2 separate regions of the Homo sapiens genome follow, and region 2 is linked to region 1. The links come from fine-mapping of genetic effects on gene expression. Tissue or cell type: fibroblasts. Region 1 holds a variant in brackets; the other region holds the start of a gene. All regions are shown on one strand. Distances are from middle to middle.

The links. PIP is the estimated chance that this variant, and not a neighbour inherited with it, causes the effect.
Region 2: NPHP4 starts here. The variant in region 1 is fine-mapped to the expression of NPHP4 in fibroblasts (GTEx, PIP 0.97).

Annotation. Positions count from the first base shown.
Region 1 is chr1:5,895,844-5,905,446 of GRCh38, forward strand. NPHP4 (nephrocystin 4) reads right to left here. Exons shown (of 30, transcript NM_015102.5): 15 at 9,449-9,603; 16 at 8,774-8,961. Among named protein-coding and RNA genes, the nearest start is that of MIR4689, 38 kb to the left of the region's middle. RefSeq lists enhancers at 552-1,353, 1,354-2,153. The variant T/A (reference allele first, on the strand shown) is at 5,081.
Region 2 is chr1:5,987,333-5,996,935 of GRCh38, forward strand. NPHP4 (nephrocystin 4) reads right to left here and starts at 5,093. Exons shown (of 30, transcript NM_015102.5): 1 at 4,912-5,093. It also overlaps a transcript of KCNAB2 not described here. RefSeq lists enhancers at 3,662-4,516, 6,393-6,442 and silencers at 4,593-4,772, 4,923-5,092, 5,133-5,312, 5,393-5,642.

The DNA.
Region 1 (9,603 bases):
CGGCTACCGTAGAAACGGGCACAGGCGACATCTATGCAGCCCACAGAGCATGACGCAGCTACCGTAGAGACGGGCACAGGTGACGTCTGTGCAGCCCACAGAGCATGACGCAGCTACCGTAGAGACGGGCACAGGCGACGTCTGCGCAGCCAAACTTGGGCTATGACATTAACTGAAAAAAGCAGGGAGCAGAAGAGTGTATTTGGTATGTTACCACTGAATTAGAAAACAGGGAAAATAAAATGTAAATGTTTGCTTATTTTTGAAAAAACAAATCAGTAAAAACACTGGAAGGGTCAGCCAGAAACGAAAAGTCTGGTTACTGTTGTTAGGAGGCTGGGCAGGGGGAGGAGCCCACAGGGATGAGGGGAGCAGGGAGGCCCGAGCACACACTGGGCTACGGTGTTCAACTTTCAACCATGTAAATAGTCCAAAAAAATTAAAAAGGAAAGCAAACATAAAAGTGAAAACAAATTAAAATAAATGAATCATACTGAATATCAAACTGGAGCTAAGAATTATTTTGAGGGCTTTTGGTCACACTAAACCAATTCTGAACCCTCGGTGGGACAGAGGCCAAAAGGAGCTGCGAAGAATCTGACTTCAGCAGGACACGCACTGTTGACATTAAGTCAACAATTAACATCAGCAGTGTCATTGTGAAAATGCATTCTATACGTTGTTAGGCAAGATAAATAAGTAAATACATGATGAGAAACCATGATTTTCTGTGTAAGACACATACAAATAATAGAAGGAAATTTATGAGAAAAATTCTAAATCTGACTTAGGAAGATCAACATGAACTCACATTTTACATTTTCCCAGCTCTTCCTGGTGAAAGGTTTTGAAGCAAGAAGACCCAGAATCAAAGCACCCCATATCCTGATCTCTGAAATGTCATCCCCATTCAGGCAGACCAGGCTCCTCAGAGAAACGGGCCCTGGCTGGCGGCAGGGAGAGCACAAGATGAGCCTGGAACCGGCACTGCTCCAGAAAGCAGGACGCGCTCAAAGTCCAATCAGAGCCGGTGAAAGGCCGGAAGGGCTCCCGGAATAATAATGAGTGCAACCCCATGCATCGATGAAGATGCAGGAGACCGCAGCCACGCTCCAAAGACAAAGCAAAACAGCCGGACACCTAACACTGGGATCCCACTGCTGGGCTAACTATTCCACCGACTTCTCACTCTGAAAACTGGCAATTAAAGGGAAAGAATTAAACCTTTGTCCTGTCTTTGTGGAGCATGTATATGTAGTTCATCGCTTATCGGTAGGGAAAGTTCTTTTTTAACAAAGAATGTGAGCTAATAAAGGCAGAGCAGACCAAATGATAGAATTAGACAAATTACCATTTCAAAAACACCAATTAAATAACTGACGCAAGCAAAGCTCAGCCCAGGGTGTTAAAACAAGAGGTGGAAGGTTGCTGGGGACCAGATATTTGCATGAAGCCAAAAAATGTCGCCAAGAATTCTTCAGTCAGTTCAAAGGGAAAAAACTCTCTTTCTACAGGAGAAACCTGGGGGTGGGCACCTTAACCAAGCAACCGAATCAGCGTCGTAACAATGAGATAGTCTGACATTCGCGCCTCCTGAGGTGGTGGGCTGTGAAGCACACAGCACTGACAATGAAGTGTTCATGCTGAGATCCAGAATCAAACAGCTTTCAGCCGTCGCTCCCGGCATTCAAGAACTACGGGGGATAAAGCAACAAGTTCAACAACATGAAGAAGCAACCAGGTAAGCCCGGAACACGGGACGTTCTGCAAGACAGCTCACTTGGTCTCTCCTGAAAGCCAGTGTCACTGGAAAAGAATGCAGGCGACTACGAGATTAAAGTGATAATTACAAATACAATACAGGAAACCGGGCTGGATCCCAGATCAAAAAAATACACATGGGGGACAAATGGGGAAATGGTACTATGAAATTTGTGTTATCTTAAATGTGATACTAGAATTGCACATATATAAAAGGGTACCTTATTTTTAAGAGATGCACGTTGCTTATTTAGAGGTAGAGTGTTACCATGCATGTCAACAACTTACTTTCAAATAATTCAAGATAAACAGTTAAGCAATGTTCCAAAACATGGCACGGTTTCTGCAGGTGGGGACATATGGGATTAGGGCTCTCGCAGAAGGCCCGGGAAAGAGGAGATCCACTAAGGAAGAGACGGCAAGGCTGTGCTAGGTGGCCCGGAGCAGGACTGGAGGCTGGTCTGATGGAGATGCCTCTCGGCTGGGACAGCCCAGGGAGAGGAAATGGACCGCGTTCTTTGGAAGAACAGATGCTCTTGGCTGATCCAAAATTCAATTACTTCAGCTCTCACACTGAGGAGGGCCCCCACAAGACAAAAACACCAGGAGGAACATGTTAGGAAGCAAAAGGCCAGGACAGGAGCGAAGAAAACAAAAAGGGTTGAAGGCACCAAGCCCAGGGCCAAGGAGGGAACCAACACACGCAGGGGAGACCACGCCCTCGGCAGAGCCCCCCAAAAAGTGTAGGAAGAAGAGGTGATGAGAAGAAAGGCCACTCACAGCTCCAAACACCCAAACACGGAGAAAACCACTCTCGGGAGCCCTGGGCTCCTTGGCTCCTCCAGGCTCACGGGCGTGGCTGCCGGAAGCTTCAGTTCAGTAGGACCAGCGTGCAGGGCCTTGGCACGAGCCCCCCAGCGGCTCTGCCGGGCAGACAGCCACGCCTCAGATGCCGCTCTCTGAGTGGATCTTCCTCCTGATCGGGACATGGCAAAGGCCTGGGAAGCTGGAACCAAGGCATTCTCCCATCTACGCGCATTCACTCAGACACCTGAGTCTCTGGCAATGTCAAATTTTGGATTCTGAGAACATAATTTTCCTTAGGACAACTATTCAGGGCTGGGAATTGGCTTGTCTAAATTTGGTGGGTATGGGGCCAGTGCTTTAAAATCTTACATGTCCTATTAACTCTGGTGACGGGATACGGAAAGAATGCCTATCAATTCAAACCCACACATGCACACACACACACACACAGACAACACACTAGAAAATGGGCAGGGGACCTGAACACATGCCTCATGAACGACGATACCCCTAAGGCCAGCAGGCCTGTGAAAGGCACTCGGTATCATCAAGGAAGCTCCAACCACGAGATGCCTCTACATCAGGATGGTTCAAAGAAACAAAGAAAACCAGCGATCACCACGTGACTGGCGAGGACATGGCGCTGTCTGGGCTGCCTGTCTCCTGCTGATGGATGTGGAAGCTGGCGCAGCACGAGGGAAACCTGCTTGGCAGATCCACTAAACCTAACAACAGGTGCTGCTCCACAACCCAGCCGTTCACTACCAGGCATATCTCTAACACAACGGCCGTGCGCACCAAAAGCACACTCGCAGCAGCACTATGCAGAAGAGCCAAAAACTAGAACCCATTCCAACGCCTGTTTGAATGGAGAAGCATCACAGAATCACCCGACACTGGGCTTCTCTACAGCCAGGAAAACAGAAACGCTACTGCTATAGACAGAACAGGGACCCCACAGACAAGAGGCCAGCAAAAGAAGTGGGATTCAAAACAGAACATAAAACATGATCCCACCGAAGTCCAAAAAGGGGCAAAACTGATGTACAGTGGCAGAATTCAGAAGGGTGGTTCCCTTGGGGGAGGTGAAGGACTGCGGTGAGGGAGGCCTCTGCATCCTGTTCCAGAGCCCCTTCCGGGCTGGGAGGTGGTTACGCAGGTGTGTTCACTTGGTAAAATTTATACCTTTTATAAAAATTAGCTCAAAATGGATCACAGACCTAAATGTAAACCACAAAACTATACAACTCCTAGGAGACGACACAGAACAAAATCTAGGTGACCTCAGAGATGGCTTTTCAGATACAACCCATGCACAATCCATGAGAGAAATAACTAATGACCTGGACTTCACTAAAATGAAAAACTTCACTCTGCCAAACATACTGGTAAGAGAATAAAAAGACAAGCCATAGATAGGGAAAAAACATTTGCAAAATACGTATCTGATAAAGGACTTGCATCCAAAATATAAAAAGACATCTGTTCAGGTATCTGAGCAGAAATCTCAGGGAAGAAGATACACAGACAGCAAATAAGCACATGAGAAGATGCTCCACATCATAGGTCACTAGAGAACTGCAAATTACAACAACAAGACACCACTGCACTGCCTGCTAGAGCGGCTAAAATCCAAACCACTGACAACACCAAATGCTGGTGAGGATATGGAGCAACCAGAATCCTCATTCACTGCTGGTGGGAATGCAAAATGCCCAGCCACTTTGGAAGACAGTATGGTGACTCCTAACAAAACTAAACATACTCTTACCACGTGATCCAGCAATCACACTCCTTGGTATTTACCTGTGAGTTGAAAGATTATGTACACACAACACCCTGTACACAAATGTTTCTGACAGCTTCATTCAAAATTGCCAAAAACTGTAAACAACCAAGATGCCCTTCAAGAGGTGAATGGAAAAACAGGCTGTGGCACATACGTGCAATGAAGTATCATTCAGCAATCCAATACGTGAGTGAGCGAGACACAAAAAGCCATGGAGGAACTAAATGCACAGTGCTGGGGGGAAGAAACCAGTTTTGAAAAGCTACATACTACATAATTCCAGCTGTATGACATTCTGGAAGAGGCAACATGGAAACAGTCAAAAGAACAGTAGTGCCAGGGGAGGAGGGGAGGGCTAAATAGGTGGAGCGCAGGGGAGGTGTAGGGCCATGAAGCTATTCTGTATGATCCATCATGGTGGATCCATGATGTCATGTATTTGTCAAAAATCACAGACTGTATAATGCAGAATGAACTTTAGTGTAAACTATGAGTTTAGTTCATAATAATTTTTTAATACTGGTTCATCAATTGTAACAAATGTTACATTTGTTACATGGTGGCTCACGCCTGTCATCTCAGCACTTTGGGAGGCTGAGGCAGGAGGATCACTTGAGCCAAGGAGTTCAACACCAGCCTGGGCAACAAGGCAAAACCCCATCTCTACAAAAACTACAAAAAAAATATTAGTTGGGCATGGTGGTGCATGCCTGTGGTCCCAGC[T/A]ATGTGGGGGCTAAGGTGGGAGGATTGTTTGGGCCCAGGAGGTCGAGGCTGCCATGAGCCATAATTGTGCCACTGCACTCCAGCCTGGGTGACAGAGTAAGATCCTGTCTCAAATAAAACCCAAAAAAAAACAAAAAAGAATATGTCACACCAACGCAAAATGTTAGTAATAGGGGAAACTGTTGGGGTGGGGGGAGGTCCTACGGGAACTCTCTGTACCAGCTACTCAATTTTTCTGTAAACCTAAAACTGATCTAAAAAAATAAAATTACTAATTTTTAAAAATAATGGAACCATGCACTGGCAATCTGTCTTTACCGTACGCATGTTACAGTTCAACAACAACAACAAATATCTTTTAAGTGAGGCTTATGAGAGGCTCAGTCCTGAACTGATGCAACTACCAAGGCCCTAGGGAACCATGCCCGTCCAGGGAGAACCCTCCCACAAGCTGCGGCTGCTGAAGGAAGCCCAGACCTGCCCAGGCAGAGACTCAGATATGTAAGAAATTGAAATCAGTCGGGTGGGGTTTTTTTGGACTTCAACTTAAGAATTTTGGACTGTGAATTTTAATTCATAATGACAAGAAAAATTTGATTTTGGAGTTTCATTTCTTTGGACTTCAACTTGCAAGGAAATTTAATTTGGGGACTTTAATTCCTCTCTGGGAAATTCATCATGGAAAGGGGTTTATATTCAAGTCAGGAGCATCTCTAAGTGGTTGGCCTTTTTTATTGAATGGTCTCAACGCTATCATTTAACTTCGTTGCAGAGCCTCTGATGAGCTGTGCTGGATAAAATGACTGGATGGAATTTGGAATGGGAAACAGAGTGGGGAATGAGTCTTCAGCAGTGGGTACAGAGGAGCCTTGAGACAAATGCATTAGTCTGATCCATTTTACAGCCTTCTGGGGACATCAGTTGGACTGTCTACCAAAGGCCTCAGGAGGACTGAAAAAGGAAAGGTGGTTGGCTTAGTTGAAGTGATTCAGGAAGGTTGGAACCGCCCTGGTGGTGACCAGCCCCCTCCCCCAAAGACAAAGGCCACACCCCTGGTTGGCCATAAACGTAATGATGAAGGCCAGTGAGTTGAGAAAACCAAACCCTGGAAATGCTGTAGGAGCACAGCCTTCCCTGGCTTCACACCTCTATGCAAAGGAACTTCCTGTGGCCTCTCTCTGCCCAGCCCCCATGCCTCTCAGGGCAAGAGCAGCTCAACTGACTGGGGATGGGGAATAGCCTAACTGAGCTAACTAACTAACTAGGCTGCTCACTCCTCCTCCCCACTCTCTTCTTTTCAGATCTGCCCACAGGAGAGAATGCAACAGTCCGAGATGTGCTTCCAGGCATGCAGAGAGGCGAGGGCTCACCCCAGGTGCAAAGCCTGCTGCTGTCTGGCCAACCTCCACCTGCATCAAAGGCCATCCACATCAGGGGCTGGCGCCAGTGGGCACAGCTGGCTCTCAGACCAACCAAGTCCTACACCCTCTTTATCATGAATAAATGCATGATAAAGAAAGTGATATTTTCATCTCCGCCATCTGCCTCTCTTGACCGACTGTGCCCATGGACAAGAAACAAGAAGCATGCCCTGTTGTACCTGGTGACCCTGGTGCCCAACTGTTTGGTTGACCCGTTCTATTGTTTTGTCTTCTAAGCATTTACACTTATCAAATTTTTTTCCTTCTACTTTTACTGGGTTTGTTCTGTCTTTCTCCCCAAAACTTCTTAAGTTGAACAATTAAAACAATATCTTAAAGAGTACCTTTCTTCTTCACCAACATAGGCATTTAAAACTGTAAATTCCCCTGTAATTACAATTTTACTTGCATCTCCTAAGTTTTGATATGCAATATTATTTTGTCATTCAGTTTTAAATAATTACGCATTTCTATTTTGAGGTCTTCATTGACTCATGGAATAATTAGAAGCACATTTTAAAATTAAAAAAATAAAAGCAGTTCAGAGTGGTTGTAGGGGAGGGAGTGACTGACTTCTGATCTTGTGGCATTATGGCCAGAGAAAGTTATAAAATTAGATTTGATACCGATTCTCTCAGTATAGGGTGATGCCTGCTTGGTGAGCTAAAAAATATATATGAATGATGATCAGTTTTTCTAAGTTTCAAAGTATGCTTTAAAATAATGCATATTCTCTAAACGGGATGTACAGGTTTTCTCAGATCACCTTTTTAAACTGTATTTTATAATATCCTTATTAACTTGTTTCTGTTTGATCAATCTACTGAGAAGTATGTCTAGAACTCCCATGATTGTGGAGGTTTGCCAATTTCTCCTTATAAGTCCATCAAGTTCTCCTCTCTATCTTGAGGCTACGTATGTTAGAAGATCGCGGATTCAGAACTGTTTCTTTTCCTAGTGAATTACTTTCTTGGTTATTGTTTACCAGCCTCCTTGATCCCTAGCGCTGCATTTGCTTTGTGTCTCTGCTGTCAGGTGCCACTGTTAGGCTACTTCATTTGAGGTCAGCATTTTAACATCACTTTTCCCATCTGCCACTTTCTACCTCGAGAGGCGGCAGTGTTTCAGACCCCAGCTGGGTCCCTTATGAGCTGAGTCACTGACCAAGATGGGGAAACTGACCATCAATAAAAATATCAACATGTCAGGTGTGTTTCTATTCAATGTAGCTTCAATCTATTCGTTTACAATGATACCCGAAGAAAAAAAAAGTCATTAGTCCCCATCCTTGAAGGATGCCAGGGAATCATGTAATTACTTCAGAAATTGGCAAATAAAGGGAAGAATCAAGTATTATCCAGCCTTTCCTATACAAACTGCACCTCAAGGTAAGCAAAAAGTTGATGCCAGGAAGTTTCTGGTTTTGGAAGCATCCCAGCTAACAAACAAGGGAGGTGTTCTAGAAGCAGAACGTCACCTCTGCACAAATGACACAGCGGTGGGCACAATGGCTGCTGACGCAACACAAAGAGAAGCAAGCAGACGCCAAGGGCGCAGCGGAGGTGCAGGAGGTGGCGCAAACGTCACCTGCTACAAAGAACTCTTGCCAAAAACAAAAAAAAGCATCTAATCATGCATCTAGATCTAACTCCCAATTTACAGCTAAAGAGGGGACAGAACAACACCTTTATGTTACCACCAGGATACAAAAACAGAATCCAGACTGTGGGGTGGACGCTCTACAGTACAATGTGGCTTCTTCAATAAATACATAAAAAAGAAACAACAGAGACAGGTACGGTGGCAGCAACTGCAGACAGAGACTGAAGAGTCACACTGCTCCATGACCAGTATGGACCTTATTTCTGGACAAACTTAAAAAAATGTTATGAGGTTACTAGCAAAATTTTAACATTGGCTAGATATTTGATGATATTAGGAGTTATTATTTTAGATGGGCTATACCCCTTAAGTTTATGTTTTTCAAATGAGAATTCCTAATTTTTTAGATATACATAAGGAAATATTCATACATGAAATTATATAATGTCTGGGATTTGCTTCAAAATAACCCTGGCTTGGGGGAGGACGCTGGGTTGGGAGGCAGCTGAGAGCTGCTGGGGCTAAGTGTTTGCTGCACTGGTCACCGTATGATTCTAATGTTGCATATGTTTTAAACTTTTCATAGTACCACTTATTTAATAACACTGACAATTTACACACACAACTCAGTACAGAATGTCTTGCCTTTGCCATGCACATGAGTACTCACCAGCATCAAAGGTGCCATCTCTGCTCACAGGCACGAGGATGTGGGTCAGGGCGCCAGAGCTGGGCTGGCCGGCCTCATCCAGCTGGACCAGCTGCAGTCGTGGCGTCGTTGCGGGTGGGAAGCGGTAGAACTGGAAGGTGAAATACACAGTCTTTGGCCATGATGTTCCTCGGCAGTCCTGGGCCACTCTGAATCCAACAACAGCTCTGGGTTAACTGAGTATCCATGGCACAGAACCTGAGGGGTCTAATGTGTGTTTGCATAGGGGATGGTCCAGGCACCTTAGTCGCTGGGGAACAGTAAAGAGGCTGCCGTGGTCACCAATGCAACCGCTTTGCTGTGCTCTCAGCAAGCCGGCCAGACAGCAGCATTCTCGAGTGTAAGGACACTCCCGGCTAGAGAAGCTGCCTTTGGAGCTACACTAAGATCTAAGACCTGGACAACCCACCGTCCACATTTTAATGAAGGACCACAAAAGATGGGGTAAAGCAGCTTTCACAGCATTTAGCATGCTGTGGGTGGGTCCTAGCCAAGAGAAGATAAAAACAGATGGCACTCCCGAATCTACTAAGACCTCAGCACAGACAGTTCTGCCAGGTCAGAACCTCAGCGAAGTTTCTCTTCAACACAGGAAATGTGAAAGCCAGATGAGTAACAGAATATTCAAGGATTTACCTGCTAAAGGCAAGAAACTGTAGCACCATCTCGTTGCTTTGTAGACAATCTGATTCTTCCTTCTGAGGGTTAAACGTCACAGGTTCTGTAGCGCTGACAGCCTCGGCTGGCTGTTTATTGGCATCCAGAATCTCGGGAAAGCCGGAGGACTGCAG
Region 2 (9,603 bases), 91 kb after region 1:
TGGCCTTCTAAGACAGCAGCTCTCTAAGTACATTCCCCAAACCCAAGGTTCAACAGGATCCTGTCAGGGGCTCTACAAGGTCAAAACTATTTTCATGACACCCAGGTGTTATCTCTTTCACCATGGTGGCATGGTGGGGCAGAGGCAGCAGCAGGGAAAGCCACTGGGGCCTCACTCAACCCAAGGCTGGTTGGGTTGAGTGAGGTCCTCCCAACCTCTCACAGAAAAGAACAAGGCAGCTTCAAGTAAGAACATCCTTGGTGAAGCCGGAAAAACTATTAATCTTATTACTTCTTGACCTTTGAGTACACACGTTCTTAATTTTGTGAGACGAAATGGAAAATACACAACAAGCATTTCTGCTGCAAACTGAAAGGCAACAGTCATCCCCGGGGAAGCCTGGCTGTGACTGGGCTGCATGCTGAACACACCGCTTTTATTATTCAACACCATTTTCACTAAGAAGAATGACTGAGAGACAAACATGGGTACTTGGCAGACATCTTCTCAAACGTGAACAAAGTTAGCATGTCACTTCCGGGAAAACAACTGCAACAAAAATGGAGTTTCCAAGCAAAAATGAGAATTAAGAACATTTGTATCCTCTACCATGAGCCTACTAGCTTCACACTTCTTCAAGACTTTCCTGATGAGAGGGGCAGTGATATAACGTGATCTTCTAAGGTTACACCATTAAATGTGTCAATAGTTGGAAGGTCTGCATGACTCCGTGAACCAATATTTTCTGAACAATGCGTAATGGTACAAAATCCTGCAAGAAGAAAACATCCACCCAAAGTGCAAGACAGACCAAAGGAGTTTAATGTCAGAGCACGAAGAGTTCATTCACATGGTGGAGACTCTGCTTTAGAACAAATCCTTAAGAAACTTCTGCTCGTAGGGTTTCAATGCAGCAGCAAAGAATATCCACAATGACCCAAGAGACTCCTCCCTAACTAGATCGGGATGGATTTCCTTCACATACTTCAACCAAGGCAACACAAGGCAACAGACTGAGTACAGAAGCAAACAGGAGCCTTCAGCTGTCCTCTCTTAAGGAGACTGTAAAGATATTTGCAAGAATGCAAAAGAATCCCACTCTTCTAAATTTTTTTTTGTTTTGGATAATATAGTTGGTTTTTGTAAAAAATGTTTTTATGTTAACATGTCACAGCCTTATTTTTAAATAAATTAATATTTTTAACATTTCTCAGTTTTAACTTCTATGGCAGTAAACATTGGTAGATATAACTCACATAAACAAAAGTTCTTTGGGGTCCTCAATAATCTTTTAAAGGGTAAAGGGATCTGAGACCAAAAAGTTTGAGAAGGGTTGTGCTAATGGTTCACCCCCTGCATGCTCCCGGCATGTGTGGGAACCGAGAGGACATGACCAGGCAGCCTGAGAGGGGCCTTGGCCCAGGGTCCCGCCTCCACCCACAGTGCACCCAGACGCTGCATCCTTGGCCCAGGGTCCCGCCTCCACCCACAGTGCACCCAGACGCTGCATCCTTGGCCCAGCGTCCCGCCTCCACCCACAGTGCACGCAGATGCTGCATGTGGGCCAGGTATTCCTGAGGACCAGACTCAGTCTGGTCCTGTGTGAATCCAGCAGGCACACATGCTGGTTTGTTCCTTTTTGTTCTCTGTGGGCTATTTTTGTCGCTCAACTTCCCTTGTTTTGTGGAGGACCCTGACCCAATTCCATGTATGGGGAGAGCTGCTCCCCGATTCCAGCCAGAGACTGCAGTGATTGCTTCAAGGAGGAACACATGGCCCACACTGAGCCATCAGTCTTCCCCGGGAGACTTGAGCCCAGGATGTCTCTCCTCCAATGCCCACAACTGCCCACACCATGCCAGCCCAGAGCCCCAGGAGCCACCACAGGGAGAGCCGACTTTGGACTTCTGACCGGCCTAACTGGAAAAGAACAAATTTGTGCTACTTTTAAGCAACCAAGTCTGTGGGACTTTCTTACAGGAGCCACAGGAAATCATACAGCTGTCCACGACTTATAAGCAGAAGACACCTGACCAATACCAGCTCAAGGGCCATCTCCCCCAGGAGGGCTTCCCAGGTGCTCCCAGGGTCCAGGCCCCAGGCTCACATGGCCCCTGTGCTTCCCTTGGTCACATCATTCGTCACCTATCTTGTGTTGAATTGCTCGCTGGCCAAGTTCTTGAAGAAAGAAGCCTCATTCCTCCTGTGTTCTTGGTACCGTCACAACTCAGTAAATGGTCACGGAACCAAACAGAAGCTTTAGCAAAGCTACCCTCAAGCTTTTCTTTCCCACTGATGTTTTATAACATTCAGAAATGTATTCACACACAATGCAGGCCGTGATGGCCCCAGGTGGGGATTTCAGAGAGGAAGTCTCTCCTGACGCAGATGCCCATGCTCCTCACCTGCCCCAGATTTCTGACCCGGTGCCTCCTGCCCTCTCCCTGGGTGTCTGCAGGACTCAGTGCCACACTTGGCCCAAGGACACTGCTGAAGGACGTGCATACGCCAGTCGACCCTCACAGGGAGCATGAAGCATGCCGGCCCCCTGCTGTACTAGGAGGGCAGACACTAGGCGGAAGGGCATCCATTCCGAAAGCACCTGCCACCCACACGGAAGTCCTGAGGCTCGGGATGTGGAGGCAGGGCAGTCCTAGTCTGAGGGGCCACGGAGGCCGAGGTGACACCTGAGACTCTGCAGGTGGGAGCCCAAGCGCCCGCAGCAGCTCTCACTGCCATCCCAGCACCTCACAAACCTCTCCGGGTGCCCTTCCACCTGCTCCTTGCTCCTTTCCACCTCTGCTCTGGCCTCTAGGAGTCAAACCAAATGCTCCCTCCTCAGAGCGAGAGCCCCATCCCCCACCTCCGGCTGCTCCCACACAGGGCAGGTGACAGAAGAGCCACCACGCTTCACCAGGGCTGTGCTGTAGTCCTGCGAGACTGTGAGCTCCATGACACCAGGCTGGGTCTTCAGCAAAAGTCTTTTAAGGATGAAATACAAATGCCCTGGAGGAAGTGCAGAGGGGCCTTTGGGGCCAAATCAACAATAAAAGAGAAAATCGAGAAGGCTCCAGGTCTTGAACCCAAGAAAAGGGTACAGTGGGCTCTCCAGGGGAAAAAAAAAAAGAAGAAGAAGAAAATACACCCACTTTTAATGAGCCCCTGATGCAAGACAGGAACTCACATTCTATGGTTACTATTCCAACAACTCTGCCAAATGAGAATCATCATTATCGCCATCTTACAGATGAGAACACTGAGACTCAGAAAGGATAAACAGCCAATCCAAGGTCACACAGCTAGCTATTATAACTAGCTATTATAATAGTATTATAGATATAATACTGTAAGCTATTATAACTACCTCCCACTACCTCAATCAAGGAGGCCAGGAGAGGCCAAGGGAGAAGAGAGGCCCAGAGGGAAAAAGTAAGAGCACCAAAGGAACCCAGGGCTAATGCTGTCTCCTCTTTAACTTCAGGACAGATTCGCAGCCTCCCCACCTGTTTCCAACCTCCAAAATGAGAGCTGTGAAATCTCCTTGAGATCTCTGCTTCTGCTGATCTATTCAGCAACTATTTCCCGAGCACTTGTGTTCCAGTGCATAAGAAGGCTGTCAAATGTGCTGTCTTCAAGCATCTAGAAAGCCAGTGGGGGAGAAAGACAAGAAAGTGACTGTGAGCAGCAACAGGCCCCCGGGAGGGTGCAGAGGTGAGCAGGGCTGAAGGAAGATGCAGGGGGTGGGAGGCGCTGTCAGGGTCCGGGAAGCCTCCTTCCCGGAATGGAAAATGTGTAATGCCTGAGACCCAGATGCCTTGGGGAGCTTTTGGGGAAGCAGAGGTCTGATTAAGCACTGCCTGGAATTCCCTCATTCATGAGCATTCTTTCAGCACCTACCCTGCGCCCGGGAGAAACGGTCTTGAACACAGCAGACAAGCTCGCTACCCCCATAGAATGTAAAGAAACGGGGCACAAATTAGCATACAAAAAGACACAAGTGTGACCTACGGAAACTGCACAGAGGAGGTGCAACGAACGGAGCCCTGGGTTAGGACCGGGAGGCGCTGCCCACCATCAACAGAAATACTCCTCCTTTTGCCAACTACACACGCGAGAGGCTGGATTTCCTTCACAGACGTCCACCAAAGCCACACATCGCGACACACGGAGGCAGAAAGCAGCGGTCTCCTAAGAAGTTAGACACGAGGAATCTCGGGCAGCGAGGTGCCTGCAAGCCCGGGGGCGGGCGGGAGCAGCCTGCACGCGTGGGGAAGGGCACGCGGGAGCGGGTGGCGCCTTCCGGGCCGGGTCGGCCGGGAGGTTCCAAGGCAGGAAAGGGGCGCAGAAGGCCGGGACGGCGCCGGGTACAAAGCCTCGCAGGGACGCCCGAAGGCCGCAGAGCCACCGCGGGGAACTGACAGCCGGAGCCGGAGCTGGAGCCGGGGGGCGGGGAGGAGGGGCGGAGGGGCGCGGCCAGGCGGGGTCCGCGGACTCCGGCCTGGGAAGGATGCGCGCGGACTAGGGCGCGGGGAGCCAAGGCCCAGAACATCGGTACCGCGCTCCCTTCAGCCGAGGGGCTGCAGAGAGGCCAGGGGGCAGGGGGCAGGGGGCAGGGGGCAGGGGGCAAAGGGCAAGGGCAGAAAGGAACCCACGTAGCCAAACGGCACCCAGCGGCCCCGACCCCAAGTGTCCCGACGAGGGGGGACGCCTGCGACTAACGCGGGGACAGCCCCCGCCGCGCGCCACCGCCGCACCCCAGGCACCGGGCCCCCACGCAGGGACGGCGTGGACCACCCTACCCCCGAACCCCGAGGCTCTGGCCAACACTGAGGCCCCCTGTGCCTCGAGGCCGCGTCCAACCTCCCCCGCGGCGCCGGCCCACATGGTTCCGCCCGCCGCGGGCCGCGTTACCTAGGAGACCGACCCGCCGCGGCCGCGCCGGAGGCCACGGAGCCCACGCTTTTCAGAGAGTCTCCACTCGACGGACCCAGAGGCCCGGCGGCCGGTGCTCAACGGAGCCACAAGCCTGAGGACCGAGGACTGGCCGAGGGGCGCGCCCCGTCCGCTGCCACCCGCGGGAGGAGCCTCGGAAGGCGGCGCACCGCGCCGCACACTCAGTCCAAGAACCCGCCTCGCGTCACTGTCGCCGTCAGGGCCGCGGAGCCAATCAGAGCCCAAGTCGAGGGCTGCGCTTTGCGAGCGCCAGCCAATCGGTGCGGCGGCGGGCCCATCCTGATTTGCATGTCCGACGACCCCTCAACCAATGGTAATGTGACTGGCGTGAACAATAGCCAATCAGAAGCTGGAAGAGGCGTGGCCCCGGGCGTCCCACGAGGTGAAGATGCTGCTGGCGGAACCTGCAGGAGCTAGCGGGATTCGGGGGCGCTAAAGTCGCAGGGGCAGGGCGGGAAGGAAGATCCGGCGCGGGGCACAGGATCCGGAGCTGGAGCCCCCAGGTGAGTACCGGGGAGACCCCGGCGGGGCGCGCTTTCCACCAAGCTGCTCCGGGACGGCGGCGGCGGGTATCCGCGAGGCCCGCGCTGCGGCAGGCGCCGCGGTCCCGTCTCCATCTCTTCTTCCCCGGCCCTGCGTCCCTGCCTCCGCCGCTGTCTCACCTCCTCTCCAGCCTCCTCACCTCCTTCTCCATCGTCTCCCTTCCCCCATCCCTTTCTGTCTTTCCTTCCCTGTCCTCCCGCCCGCCCGACCCTTCAGCTCGCATCCCTGACCCCTGCCCCTGCCGCCGTCCCTCTTCCCGGTGCACCTCTTCCCCATCTCTGCCCGCTCCGGTCCTAGCAGCCTCGCCCTCCCCTTTCCTCCATCCTCCTCTCATCCCCTCTCCCGGCCTCTGCGCAGCCCCACCGGGGCGCTGCTGTTCCCGGTCCTCCCCATCTCTCCTCCTGATCGCTTCTCAAGGCTCATCCGTCGTTCTCGCTGCCTGTCCCTGTGTCGCTCCGGTCCCTTTCCCCACCCTCCCATTCTGCCCCCAGCCCCTCCGACCTCTCCCCGCGGGCACGCTCTCACCACCTTACCCTGCTCCCCAAGACTGTGACCCTGCTTCCTGCACCAGTTCCTCGGGCTGTTTACAGCACACACACCGCCACTTCTGACCCTGAGCCCCTACTCCTATCTTAAGCTTCTCCCTCCTGCCAGGCCTTGGCACAAAGCACTTCCGCACCTCCCTACCTGCTGCTGCTCCCAGGATGCAAAGACCCCACTGCTGCACCGCGTCCTGCGGCATTAGCAGCAGCCGGGGTACCTGCCCACCTTCCCACCCCGCCAACCAGCCGCATCCTGGTGTCCCTCCTCCTGGCATTTGTCCTGGGGGCTCTTACAGGGACTGTGCTTTGCCCGCAGCATCCCGGGGTGCTCCAGGTGGAAAGCCCCTTAGCACCTTTCCTCCCTGGCCACCGTCTCCTTCCCTCCCCACCCCCACTTTCCTGCTCAGCCTCACTTTGTGATTCAGCATTTTTGGGGTTGGTAACTTTCTTGCTTCCTGTCGTGATAGGGACCTGGCTACGGAGCTGAAGGCAGGGGTCTTGACCCTGCGGTTAGCAGGGCCACCTTAGGAACCAGACCTGAGCTGCCTGGTTGGGAGGGGGCTGAGGAGCTGGGGACCGCCACTGGGGGTTGTCTTTTCCTCCCTTTCATTTGTCTGCCCTGTGTTGAACTGTGTCCAAGGGGAGATGACATAAGTAATAGCTCTTGGGGAAGTGGGCTATTAGCATTTATGGAAATTAATACATCCACATCCGAGGAGCAAGAACACCAAGTTCAGGCCACAGCTGTCCCACTGTCTGTCGTTTCAGGATTTTTTCTTTCTCTGCAACTTCTCCTCCCCGACAAAAACCCCAGCCTCACCCCTCCCCTTTCCCCCAGTGCCAAGAGTAAGCTCCTGCTCTGCTAAGGAAGCCGCATTCAGGCCCCGCGTTGCAGGTTGCAGGGTTTGGGGACCTACGTGTGGAGAGTCACATCTGCCCACCTGATTCTCGCCTGGCGGCCGTGTCTGCTGCAGAGCCCTGTGCAGCTCCTGGCCCTGTGCTCTCGCAGTGTGGGGCCCTAAGAGTGCACTTGGTCCTCCAGGTCCTGTCATTGTCTCCACGGCCACACTCGGCCTCAGTGGCACTGACAGTGTTCGGGCCGCAGCACATCCCTCGAGAGCAGCATGGTAGGGGCTTCCCTGTTGACACCCAGGGCCATTTTTTTTTTCCCTGCGCCAGTCAGCAAATGCTTTGTAGGTGCTAGTCAACACCTGGGGGCTGAGCCAGGCACTGGAGTTGGGGGGTGTCGTGAAAAAGTGTGAAACCCTTTTCGTGTGTTTCTTGGTTGAGAACCGTCTTGGGTCTGGATTTGGAGCCTGGATGGGAAGCAGTGTGCACAGAAGCCATTGCACCCGGGAGGTGGGACGTGGGCCATGGCGCTAGAGAGCTGGAAAGGCCGAGGGTGCCATGGGCTGGCCAGCTAGAGAAGGCTTCCTCGCTTTCATTTTTCAGTCATCTTCTAAGACCCAAATGGTTCAGGAGGAAGCGAGTGCCACACAGTTTTGATTTGGCAGTTTCCGGCCTGGGCTTGGAGGGAGGGGCCTCCCCTAGACCTTCCTGTGTGTTGGTGCTCTGCCGTGGTAACTGGGAACACATCATCTGTGTGGAAGGAGAGCCTGCTCCCTCGCGAGAACCAGGGGACCGTGCTTCTGTTTCCAGGGACTCTGGCCAGGTGCGGTATGTGTCTGGTCCTCGGCTAAGTTCTCAGTGATATTCACGCCGCCAGAGGTCCCAGAGTGAATGTTTTCCTGGCGTCCCTGAATAAGGAGGCAGGACAGTGGGCAGCTCGGGGCGGCAATTCGAGAAGGATTGATGCCAGAGGTGTCTAGGGCCATAGACCCCATGTTCCCGCCAGTCCCCCTCCCACCACCAGGAGGACTTGGGTCTTGGCACCCAGCAGCCGGTCATCCTTGCTCTCAGAGGACTAAACGGAAGGACAGGCTTCTCCAGGGTCAACAGAGGCAGTGACGGAGCTGGGTTGGACCCCCTACTTCCTACTTATTTGAGCCCAGTTCATGCCTTGGCTGTCCGAGCTGGGGGAAGCCAGCACCCCGAGGACATGACCGGCTGTCCCTTCAGAAGGCCACTTGGAGGCATTGCTGACATTCATGGGCGCAGCCAGTGCCCTTGGGTGTGTCCAGGTCACTGGAGGGGCTTTTGGGACTGGGAGGTGCCACTACCATGGAGATTTCTCAGCGACTCAGTCCTGCCTGGCATGCAGGCCCTGGTGCAAGGGTACTGTTGTTCGTGGCCTTCAAAGAGATGGCCCCATAGTTAGAGAAGAGTGAGGGCACCAGGTCCGTGGTGGGATGAAGGAAAGGAGGGACCCTCCCCACACTGGAACTACACTCATGACCTCAGTTCGCCTCCGGCACTTGTAAACAACCCTGTGAGGGAGGCTGGATAGGGAAACTGAGGCACAGAGCAGCAGTGAAACTGATCCTGGCCTCCCAGCTAGTGAGGAAACCTTGATTCTGTTCCTGCCCTGCCAGAACTCTGTGAGAGGTGCCCCCTCCGCCATCACCTGAGCTCCATCGAATGCCTGAAATCCTCACCTCTGCAGGAGTGAGTCTCCCAAGAGGCCCTGGAGGCCCAGGCCCAGACCCTGGGGGATATGGAAGCACTCCTTTGTCGTGGCGTGGGAAGCCCCACACTGCTCTTTCCTTGGTGACGGGTGACCCGCCATGTTCAGGCCCCTCCTGGTCTATCTTCGGGTGAGTCTATTAAGGGATACACCATCTCCGCTCAGCCAGTCCCGAGGAGGCAAAGGGAACAGGACCCTCTTCCCCAGGAGAGAGCACACTGGGGGAGATGGGGTGGCACACCTGGGCTTCGTCCTGTCACTGCCCACTGGCTCGAGGCTTTCCTGCCTGCCTGGGCTTGGCAGATGCGTGAGACTCCCTGTCTCATGGGCCTGAGCAGATGCTGGGCCCTCTTGTCCTCTGCCACATCCTGGGGAACTCAGATGAAGGCCAGCCTCCCTCTTCCTGCACACCCACCATGGGATGAGCCCTGGGCTCAGGCCCCTCCCTGCCTGAGGGTGCCCTGCCACTGCCACACCCAGGTTTCCACTCAGACCCCTGCTGGCCAGCGTCTCAGGAGGCTACTCCCTGCTCTGCGCAGTGACCACATGGTTAGCCCCAGAGACCCAGGTTCTGCGTGTCTTCAGTGACAGAGCAACCCCATGCCCACCCTGCCGGCTTCCCCGGCACCTGTCTCCTTGCAGGCAGCCTCCTCCACTTCTCCAGCACACAGGTACCCACAGAGCTAACTGCTTTGACGCCATGCTGGTTGTAGACAAAACAGGATTGGGAAAAGGGGAAAAGTGGAGAAATGGTGGGGACCACCTTCCTGGCCGTCCGCCTTTACCTGGACCCAGTGAGAAGGCTTTCCTGGCTGTGATCTTGAGCCCTGACTGCCGAGCAGCCGAGATCTATCATCCAACTCCATGGCTGGGAGCTGGGCACAGGTTTCTTCTCAGACCCCGCACCAGATTCAACCCATTCCACGTGGGCCAGTTTTCTGGAGCAACTTCCTGGGTCCTGTAGACCCCTGAGGTCTGGTC